2 separate regions of the Homo sapiens genome follow, and region 2 is linked to region 1. The links come from fine-mapping of genetic effects on gene expression. A gene starts in region 1. The other region holds a variant in brackets. All regions are shown on one strand. Distances are between the middles of the regions. Region 1 holds the start of SLC37A3 (solute carrier family 37 member 3). Region 2 overlaps SLC37A3 (solute carrier family 37 member 3).

The links.
Region 2: its variant is fine-mapped to the expression of SLC37A3 in transverse colon (GTEx, PIP 0.92).

What each region holds. Positions count from the first base shown.
Region 1 is chr7:140,395,500-140,400,880 of GRCh38, reverse strand. SLC37A3 (solute carrier family 37 member 3) reads left to right here and starts at 2,351. Exons shown (of 15, transcript NM_207113.3): 1 at 2,351-2,465. RefSeq lists silencers at 2,204-2,433, 2,544-2,813.
Region 2 is chr7:140,348,535-140,353,915 of GRCh38, reverse strand. SLC37A3 (solute carrier family 37 member 3) reads left to right here. Exons shown (of 15, transcript NM_207113.3): 8 at 1,770-1,854; 9 at 2,465-2,643; 10 at 5,149-5,290. Among named protein-coding and RNA genes, the nearest start is that of SLC37A3, 47 kb to the left of the region's middle. The variant G/A (reference allele first, on the strand shown) is at 1,994.

The DNA of each region.
Region 1 (5,381 bases):
CTCAACCTCCCTAGTAGCTGGGATTAAAGATACACACCACCACATGGCTAAGAAGGCATTCTAGCCCTGAGTGGTGGTGACACAGGTTATATACTTGAAGTATACACACACACATATATATGTATACACCCATATGTAAATATAACACAAAAAACTATGTATTTCACTCTATGTATATATATTTACCATTTTAACCGTTTTTAAGTGTACAATTCAATGGCATTAAATACATTGTTGTGCAACCAACATCACCATCCATCTCCAGGACTTTTTTGGCATCCCAAACGGAAACTCCATAGCCATTAAACAACAATTTCTCATTTCCCCTTCCCTCCAGCCATGGGCAACCACCATGCTACTTTCTGACTCTATGAATTTCACTACTCTGGCTACCTCATATAAGTGGAACTGTACTGTACTGGTCCTTTTATGTCTGACTTATTTCACTTAGCATAATGTTTTTGAAGGTTCGTCTATGTTGTAGTATGTGTCAGAATTTGCTACCTTTTTTAGGCTGAAAAATAAACGATTCACAATATATTTTTAAAAATAAAAGTAACATATTTGGCTCATTTATTTTTGCTCACCCTGACATCATATTTCTCCTTGGATGCCTAGAGACAAAACTACCACTGTATAAGGGCTAGAAACAAAACTACCACTGTATAAGGGCAAATAAAAATGAAAAATAACAGGCTTAATTCCTCTGCTGAAAATAAAGAGACTTCTCAGCCTTCTCTCTGTTCCTTCAAAATTTCTTTCTCTGTCCTTTTCGAATGTACACAAATCTTTATAACGGCGAAATGAGCCTCTTGCCAGTATCACAACTCAGAAATGTATCCTCAAGGACTTGGGGGTCATCTTTTTGAAATTCAGACGTGAGTTAGTGCCTGTATCTTCCAGTTCCTACATGAGGGTAAGAGACTAAATTAGTGGGTATGGGCGCCTTGCTCCAATTTGTAAAACTACCTCCTGCTATAAAGATATGCGAACTTTGGCCGGCTGCGGTGGCTCACACCTGTAATGCTAGAACTTTGGGAGGCCAAGGAGGGCAGATCACGAGGTCAGGAGATCGAGACCATCCTGGCTAACACGGTGAAACCCCGTCTCTACTAAAAATACAAAAAAATTAGCCAGGCGTGGTGGCGGGCGCCTGTAGTCCCAGCTATTCGGGAGGCTGAGGCAGGAGAATCCCTTGAACCCGGGAGGCGGAGCTTGCAGTGAGCTGAGATCACGCCACTGCACTCCAGCCTGGGTAACAGAGCAAGACTCCGTCTCAAAAACAAAAAACAAACAAACAAAAAGATATGCGAAGTTTAAAAAACGAACAACAACAACAAAAAGTTATGCGAAGTTTGTTTTGCTTCTGGATAAAGCCAACATGAGTGGTCTCCCCAATTACTACTATTAAGTAAGGAGGAACTATGTTTGACAAAAGGTGTTGTCAAGTTCTGTTATTTGAAGACTAGTGATTGTTTATCTTGAGAACAGGTATGTAATGGTTGTTGTGGAGATTTTCTGGATTAAGAGAAGTTTTTTTTCTTTAAAATTCGAACAAGTGTCTGTATTTTTTCCCTTTATTTAAGAAACGGTGGCGGCGGTGGTGGTGGTGGATGGGGGGCGGCTCTCACTACCTTGCCCAGGCTGGTCTCAAACTCTTGTTCTCAAATGATGCTCCTACTTCGGCCTCCCAAAGTGTTAGGATTACAGGTGTGAGACACTTGTGTTGGATTTTTTTTTTTTGGAGGCAGGGTCTCGTTCTGTTGCCCAGGCTGGTGCAGTGGAGCAATCACAGCTGCCAGCCTCAAACTTTTGGGCTCAAGCGATCCTCGCACCTCGGTCGCCCCAGTAGCAGGGACCACAGGCACATGCCACTACTCCTGGCTAATTTTAACATTTTTTGTAGAGATGGGGTCTGGCTATGTTGCTAAGGCTGGTCTTGAACTACTGGGTTCAAGTGATCCTCCCTTCTCGACCTCCTAAAGTGTTGGATTACAGGCGTGAGCCCACTGTGCCCGGCCTGCATTTAATTAGACACCTAAAATTTAGGCCGGTCAGTAGCACACTTAGCAGCACGTTACTTTTTATAAAAACAAAGACCGAATACCGCTTTTTTGAAAAAAAAAAAAAAAAAAAAAAAAAAAGGATGCACCAGTTCTCCCCATATCATTTCTTCTCTCTACCTCTCGTCTTTTGCAGCTAACATTACTGGCCAGGTCCGCAGCAGCAGAGTTCTGTGGGCTCCCAGCCTCCGCCCTCCTCGCCCTCCTCCGCGCCGGCAGGTGAGGCCGCGTGGCGGGACTACAACTCCCAGCGTGCCCCGCGACGGGAGGGTCACGTGGGCGTCCGGAAACCCTGGTCGCACCGCCAGGGGTGAGCTGGCGGCGGGGGAGGCGGGCAGCGGAGCCAAGCTGACCCGGCGAGCGGAGCCGGGGCTGGAGAGCGGCGACCACTGCGGATCTCGGGTGCGCAAGCGGTGATGCGTGGGGCCGAAGACCTGCTGGGGCGGGGGCGGGTCCAATCCGAGGGGCTTCCCGGGTCGGGAGGGCGGTGGGGAGATGTAGGTGGCGGCCCCCCTTGGGTGGGGCGCCCAGGCAGGGTCGGCCGCTCGCCCCCTCCTTCTCCTCCCTGGGCCCGGGCCTGGGGTCCCGGCCGTCACGGGGAGGCTGCGATGGGGTGGATGGGGAGGAGAAGGACCCCCGGGGGACCCTGCGGCCCGGCCCCGATCCATGCGGCAGAGGCTTTTGTGCTCCTCGCCCGCCTGTCCTCCGGCCGTGGGTCTGGGAGATTCTGACTTGATCAGAAAAGGGCTTGTCGTTCGGACCAGGGGAGAGGGGATGCTTTTCAGGTAGGTGGGGAAGGAAGCTCTTTGGAAAGGATGTATAGAGGTCAGAGAAGAAGCGTGGTCTCAGTGAGTGACTGGTTTTGTTTTCTGGTAACTAGCATGAACTCAGTCAAGGAATTTGGTCAAATTATTCGTCATTCCCTCCTTATTCTTCGCAGGGTGTGTTCTGTTTATTCTCAGTTTTGACAGGAGATAATGGGAATGTGTCCCCGGAGTTTTTAGTGTTTTTTTGAAATGTAAGATGGTAGGCTATCTCGTGGTAACTCTTACTGAAAAGTTTATAGTTTATAGGGAGGAGTGGTTCCTGGGGTGAGCAAAATCATTCAGTTGTTATCTTTTTGTCCACCGGTTTATTTCTACCTTTACACAAATTTATACATACATAAATATATATAACAGTTGTTGAAGGGAATGTCTTCAGTGCTTTGGTGCTTAAATGATTTCTTTTCAGTTTGTTTGATGTTTCTTGGATACTAGGCTCTATACTAAGAACTCCATATAAATTATCTCATTTAATTAATACATGAGGAAATTGAGCTTCGGGTTGGGCGCGGTGTCTCATGCCTGTAATCCCAGCACTTTGGGAGGCCGAGGCCTGTGGATTCCTTGAGGTCAGGAGTTCAAGACCAGCCTGGCCAACATGGTGAAACCCCGTCTCTACTAAAAATACAAAGATTAGCTGGGCGTCGTGGCGCATGCCTGTAATCCCAGCTACTCGGGAGGCTGAGGCAGGAGAATCGCTTGAACCTGGGAGGCGGAGGTTGCAGTGAGCCGAGATCACACCACTGCACTCCAGCCTGGGTGACAGAGCCAGACTCTGTCTTTTTTTTTTTTGAGACTGAGTTTTTGTTCTTGTCGCCCAGGCTGGAGTGCCGTGGCACCATCTCGGCTCACTGCAACCTCCGCCTCCCGGGTTCAAGTGATTCTCCTGCCTCAGCCTCCCGAGTAGCTGGGACTACAGGCGCCCGCCACCACGCCAGGCTAATTTTTGGATTTTTAGTAGGGACGGGGTTTCACCATATTGGCCATGATGATCTGGATCTCCTGACCTCGTGGTCCGCCTGCCTTGGCCTCCCAAAGCGCTGTAATTACAGGCGTGAGCCACTGCGCCCGGCCTCAGACTCTGTCAAAAAAAAAAAAACAAAAAAAAAAACAGAAATTGAGATTCAGAGAAGCTACTTTTAAGTGGAGGGTCTTAGATTCCATACCTGGCTTGTCTCTTGAATGACACCATTCTTCTATTAGTGTTTGATTTCGAGTCTCTGCCTAAGAAGGTGACCCGGAAACAATACTTTTATAAAAGTTAAGTCAACAGTATCTTGCTGCTTTCTAGCTGTCAGGATCAACTGCCTTGTTCATTGTTTAAGGTTCTGATTTGTGCTCTGTTCATCAGTGTTAATGTCATGTCACTGCAGTGACCATTAACTTGATTATAAATCCTTTGGTAGAAGAGGGAAAGATTTTTATCTTGAAAACTAGTTGTCTTTGGAACATGTCCAAAAACAGGGAGGAAGAATGTGGTTTTGGAAACCCTGGAATAAAATGAGAGATATTTACAGATAAATGCCAAGTATTTTATGCCTGTGGTAATGAGATAATTTAAGAAGAGATAAAAATTACAGGAAGACGGATGAATTAATGAATAAAAAGGATTTATGAGGTTCAAGTAAATGGCTTCGTATGAGATAATGTGGGATAAAAAAGATACTTGTGGCTGGGTGCAGTGGCTCATGCCCATAATCCTAGGGCTTTGGGAGGCTGAGGCAGGAGGATCTATCTCTTAAGGCCAGGAATTTAAGACCAGACTGGTTAACATAGCAAGACCCTGTTTCTACAAAAACTAAGAAAATTAGCCAGGTGTGATGGTGCCCACCTGTAGTCCCAGCAACTTTGGAGGCTGAGGCAGGAGGATCGCTTAAACCTAGGAAGGAGATTGAGGCTGCAGTGAACTATGATCACGCCACTGCACTCCAGCCTGGGTAACAGAGTGAGACCCTGTCTCTGAAAAAAAAAAAAAGATAGTTGTATGAGTGTGAGCATTGAGACGCTAAACTGCAACATATACAATACTGTAAAAATGGTGAACTCAACTATACATTTAATAATTTCCCACATTCTTCTTTACACTTTGAAAACACATAATCTTTTTACTGTGCAGACATAAAAACTGAAGTCTGGGAGGTGAGTAATTGCCCATCTAATGCCCCTCTCCTTTGAGTGTGTAAGAGAACCACTCTTACCAGTAAGATGTTTTTTTTCCCCATCCTTGGTATATACCTCTGAGTTTAGGTGTGCTAGTTCTTTTATTTATTTATTTATTTATTTTTTGAGACAGAGTCTTGCTCTGTTGCCCAGGTTGGAGAGCAGTAGGGGGATCTCGGTTCACTGCAACCTCCGCCTCCTGGGTTCAAGCAATTCTCCTGTTTCAGCCTCCCAAGTAGCTGGGATTACAGGCACCCACCACCACACCTGGCCAATTTTTGTGTTTTTAGTAGAGACAGGGTTTCGCCATATTCGCCAGGGTGGTCTAGAACTC
Region 2 (5,381 bases), 47 kb after region 1:
ACATGATGAAACCCTGTCTCTACTAAAAATACAAAAATTAGCCGGGCGTGGTCACGGGCACCTGTAATCCCAGCTACTCCAGAGGCTGAGGCAGAGAATTGCTTGAATCCAAGAGGCGGAGGTTGCAGTGAGCCAAGATCATGCCATTGCACTCCAGCCTGAGTGACAAAGCGAGACTCCGTATCAAAAAAAAAACAAAACAAAACAGTGTGCTAAGTGAAGACAGCAAGGGTGCAAAACTGTGTATTGAATGCCATTTATGTAAGAAGGAAGAATGAAAGAGAATATGCTTGTATTAGCTTGTATGTTTCCAAAACAATTTCTGGGCAGTAAAAATGAACAACAATGGTTATATGTTGGGAAAATCGGGAGAATTGAGCAGATGGGGAAGGTGGGGTAGGAAGGAGAGTTTTTACTGTACTTTCTTTTTTTTTTTTCCAAGACAGAGTCTCACTCTGTCACCTAGGCTGGAGTGCAATGGCGTGATCTCAGCTCACCGCAACCTCCTGGGTTCAGGAGATTCTCCTGCCTCAGCCTCCCGAGTAGCTGGGATTACAGGTGTACGCCACCACGCCTGGGTAATTTTTGTATTTTTAGTAGAGATGGGGTTTCACCATGTTGGCCAGGCTAGTCTTGAACTCCTGACCTCAGGTGATCCGCCCACCTCGGCCTCCCAAAGTGCTGGGATTATAGGTATGAGCCACCGTGCCCAGCTTGACTGTACCTCTTATTCCTCTGTTGCTTGAATCATGTGAATATATTACCTACTCAAAAACCTAAATTATTAAAGGTAAGTTCGCTCTTTTAAAAGGTAGATACATTTTTAAACAGCTCACCAAGAATTTTGGTGTAGTTAGGGTCAGTGAGAAGTCCTTCATTCCCTTCATTCATGGCCACCTTTATTCTAGGCTTCTTAGCCTCACACCTGGATTGTATAGTTGGTTCAGATGAAAATTTCAGTTCACCTTCTGAGCTGCTCTCAGATTTGACTTCTGGAAACACTAATTTTGTCACTCATCGGTTTAAAAATTCAGTGTCCACATCAGGTTCCATTCTCTGTTAAATAAAAATTCAGCTGTGCAGCCTGGGGGTTGAGAGTCTTTAATCTAGCTGTCACCTTTCCAAATCAGTTTTCTTCCTGATTATCCCCTAGCAGAAGCCCTCTCCTTGAGTCGTGCAGTAAGCTTTCTATCTCCTTCCACCCTGTGTCTTTGCTTACCGTGTGCCTGGAAAGATGGGCAATTGACTTTGATTTTCCATTCTTCCCTAAGACATTGTCTTACTGCTTCAACCTCTTCAGCTCTTTCCTTCATCTGGATTCCCGTATATGTTTCTCAGTAGGATTGGGCCTTCTCATCTATTCAGCTTCTTGGTGCTTTATAATATTGTTTCATGTATTTAATCCCCTCAACTGTATGTAATATCTTTGAGGGCAGATACTGTCTTTTATGAGAGGCTATGTGATACAAAGACCTAGATTTTTGGAGCTAGTCTAATTTCACAATCATAACAGTACCACTTAGTATCCAGGGGAGCTTCATTCTCCTCTCTGAGCCTCATACAATCACCAGGAAGAATTAAATGAGAAAACACGAGTAGAACACTTTGCATGGCGCCCGGCCCAGTAGAAGCTCTGGGTGCTCCCTTGCTTCCCGGTCTCCCTTCCCACCTCTCCCCCACCCCCACCTTCCCCCACACACCTTTAATGAATGTGCTTGTGATGACTGTCCCCAGATATGTAAGGACCACCTTTCACCCCTCTCCTCCAGTATGCCTTTCTGGTGACGGCGTCTGTGCAGTTTGCTGGTGGGATCGTTATCTTCTTTGGACTCCTGGTGTCACCAGAAGAAATTGGTGAGGAGAAGCCGCCCCTTCTATTCCGAATGTCTTACTATTATGGCCGAAAGGAAATCTGAGGCCAAGAAATCGAATCTCTTTTTTCCTAGGAAAACTCTGAGCTCCTTTTAGTGAGTGAAAGGAGAACAGTACTGCC[G/A]TTTGAGTCCTGTCGACATTGTAGCCAGCCCCTGGCACAGCTGGACGTGTTTGAGGGGAGTGATGCACGTCTTTTATAGATACAGGAAAATCTTCGCATTTGCAAATTATTTTTATAATTGAGACACTGGCAAGGAATGAACATAGATGTATTTCTGATTTCACTTCTTGAAACATTTCTTTTCATCCATAAAAATGATGCACAAAAAAGATACTTAACCTGTAGTTAAATACAGATTACATACAAATGAAACCACAGAAGCAAACAGATGTACAATTCTTCTATCTTTTGAGTATTTTTAGATAGACTGTGTGACTTTAATTGACCTTAGTTGACCTCGGTCTCTGGACCTTCGTTGCTGCTTCTGTAAAATGGAAATAAAAATAACATCACCTCATAAGTAGGGATGTATGCAGAGCCCTTCACACGTGGTAGGCACTCCATAAACAGTGGCTGTCGCTGTTATTTTAGGTCTCTCGGGTATTGAGGCAGAAGAAAACTTTGAAGAAGACTCACACAGGCCATTAATTAATGGTGGTGAAAATGAAGACGAATATGAGCCGAATTATTCAATCCAAGATGATAGTTCTGTTGCCCAAGTCAAGGCGATAAGCTTCTACCAGGCATGTTGCCTTCCTGGAGTCATACCGGTAAGGACCGCTTACATCTTACCACAGCCAGGGAGGTATGAGAGCCCGTGACATCTCCTCTGCCTGAGATAAAGCTTCCTTAAGTATTGAGCCTCTGTTGGATACTTTATTTTAGGAATATACGTGCTGAGGAATGTTGTCTAGTGCCCCTCAGCTTATCTGATCTCTAATGCAGGGGTTGACAAACCTTTTCCATGAAGAGGCAGAGAATAAATATTTTTGACTTCGGGGAACCATCCAGTCTCTCCCCCAACTACTCAGCTTTGTAGAACAAAATAAGCCACAGAAAACATGGGACAGTTAGACGTGGCCAGACTTGGCCAAAGAGCTCTGCTTTCCTGACCCTGATCTGGTATGTGATTAAAAAGGCAAAATTGATAATTTTTAATGTGTGCTTTTGGGCCTTTCGAAGTATTATAGAATTATATGTGGACCAAGAAGAAGGGTTGTGAATGGTTCCTAAGTCTGCCTTGCCCCCTTTTATTTTTTATTTATTTATTTATGATTTTGGGACGGAGTGTCGCTCTGTCACCCAGGCTGGAGTGCAGTGGCGCAGTCTCGGCTCACTGCAACCTCTGCCTCCCGGGTTCAAGCGATTCTCCTGCCTCAGCCTCCCGAGTAGCTGGGATTACAGGTGCATGCCACCATGCTTGGCTAATTTTTTGTATTTTTAGTAGAGACAGGGTTTCACTGTGTTAGCCGGGATGGTCTCCATCTCTTGATCTCATGGTCTGCCCACTTTGGCCTCCCAGAATGCTGGGATTACAGGCGTGAGCCACCGCGCCTGGCTTGCCCCCTTTTAAAGGGTCCAGAAGAGAGCACTCCACAGTCTTTCTTGGTAATGCATTCCAGTGTTTTCCACAGCCTGTGCAGTCAGGAAAGCCTTCTAACGTCTACACTAAATCCCTTCTGCTGCAGTTTTTCTGTCTTGATGTTTCGGGCACTCTAGCACTGGAGTGGAAGTTAAGAGGCCTAGGTTATGTTTCCAGCTTACCCACTAACTTTCTGTGACACCTGGGGTGAGTCACGCAACCCGTCCGTGTGTCTCAGTTCCCCTTCCCATGGAATAGAAATTATTCCACTCTTCCCTGGGGCCTGTAACATTGGGCTGTTGTGTTTTGAACAAGCACCTGTTGTTATTTCATTTGTCAATGGTGCTTTATGAATGTGATCCCTCAGGTAGAGTGATCTGTAGGCCATCTTAATACATGCCTGTCAATCCCCTTCTGTCAGTGCCTCCAAGCTGAGAGAACTAACATTTCCAACAAAGTTAAGTATGAATTAAAATGTAATTTTCCACAATTCTTTAACCCAGTGATGATATATGATATAAGAGAAATGCAGGTTGCTTTAGACCTGTTCTTATGCTATTGATTATTATCTTTTAACTGGTTTTTAAAGTACTCTGCTGGTAATAGTTTAATTTTTGAGAAAGAACTTTGTCGTGACTAAATATGGACCTCTTTTGCTGTTCCTTTGTTCTTCACAAGCTATTGTTCTCTGACATGGGCAGGGATGTAAAGGAAATCTAGTTAACTTAATTCCTTTGTCTTTGTAGCAGGCTGTCTGGTCAGAATGCACTCGTGATTGGGATTTGGCTCTCTAGGGGGTGGCTGTTGCCTGCCAGGGAAGCTGTTTTAAAACAAGTGATACCTAGGGAATAACTGGCAGCTCCAGGGAAAAGAATATACTAGCCAGACACCCTTTGAAGTCAGCCCCTCTGTCCCCCCCCCCTTTTTCCTTTGATGCTGAATGTCAGGATTTCCTGGTAGTAATGTGTTGAATATAGGAGTCTCAGCCCCACCACCATCTTCATGCAGCTGCAGCATTTTTTTCCCCTCAAGGGAGAGCCACGAGGCCGATGATGACATGTTCTTTCATTTTTGACTCGCCAGAGAGACTCTCTTCTTTGCCACCAGACCAGGGAATGTGGAGCTTTTGAAAACTAGTGTGAAAGGAATTATCATGCTGCTGCTTTTCTTAGACCGTGGAACTGTAGTGTAGTCCCTTTGCTGTCCATTGTTCACAGTGTTGCCTTGGCAAGGAGTAGAATAACCAACCCCGTTTGGCTGCTCCCAGTAAAGGCCGTGATGCTTCCTGGACTTCTTTGCCTATGGTTAACGCTGGTTAGTGGCATGAATACCATTCCTCTTTGTGTGAATAAAGAAATATGGGTATGTGCTCTGCCTTATAGGTTCAAAACACTGGCTTGCTTCTACCAGAGAACTGATAGGAGGAGAAACTGGACACAGCTAAGAAGTAGCCATAGGTGTTTTTTATTCCAAAGGCCTGCTGTACATGCCTGTCTAGAAGTTAACAGGGATGAAGAGCAGAGGGAGACTAGCTGAAGTCAGGCATGTGGGAGTTTGTAGAGATGTTTAACTGTAAAATCAGGTTCTGTTCATCCTAACTTCCTTTATTTTGTTTTGCTTTTAAATGACATTAAAAATGGTAGTCGTGCTGTGCTATTTGTCCCTCGCTGATAGTTGAATGCTTTTCTTGTAGTACTCACTGGCCTACGCCTGCTTGAAGTTAGTGAATTACTCCTTCTTCTTCTGGCTCCCCTTTTATCTGAGTAACAACTTCGGCTGGAAGGAGGCGGAAGCCGACAAGCTGTCCATTTGGTACGACGTTGGAGGGATCATAGGTATGCCGGTGATACATCTTTTCCATAATAAAGAGTTAGTCACTAGTGATCTTTTACTGGGTTGTGAAATCTGGCCTCATTTAAAGTTTTA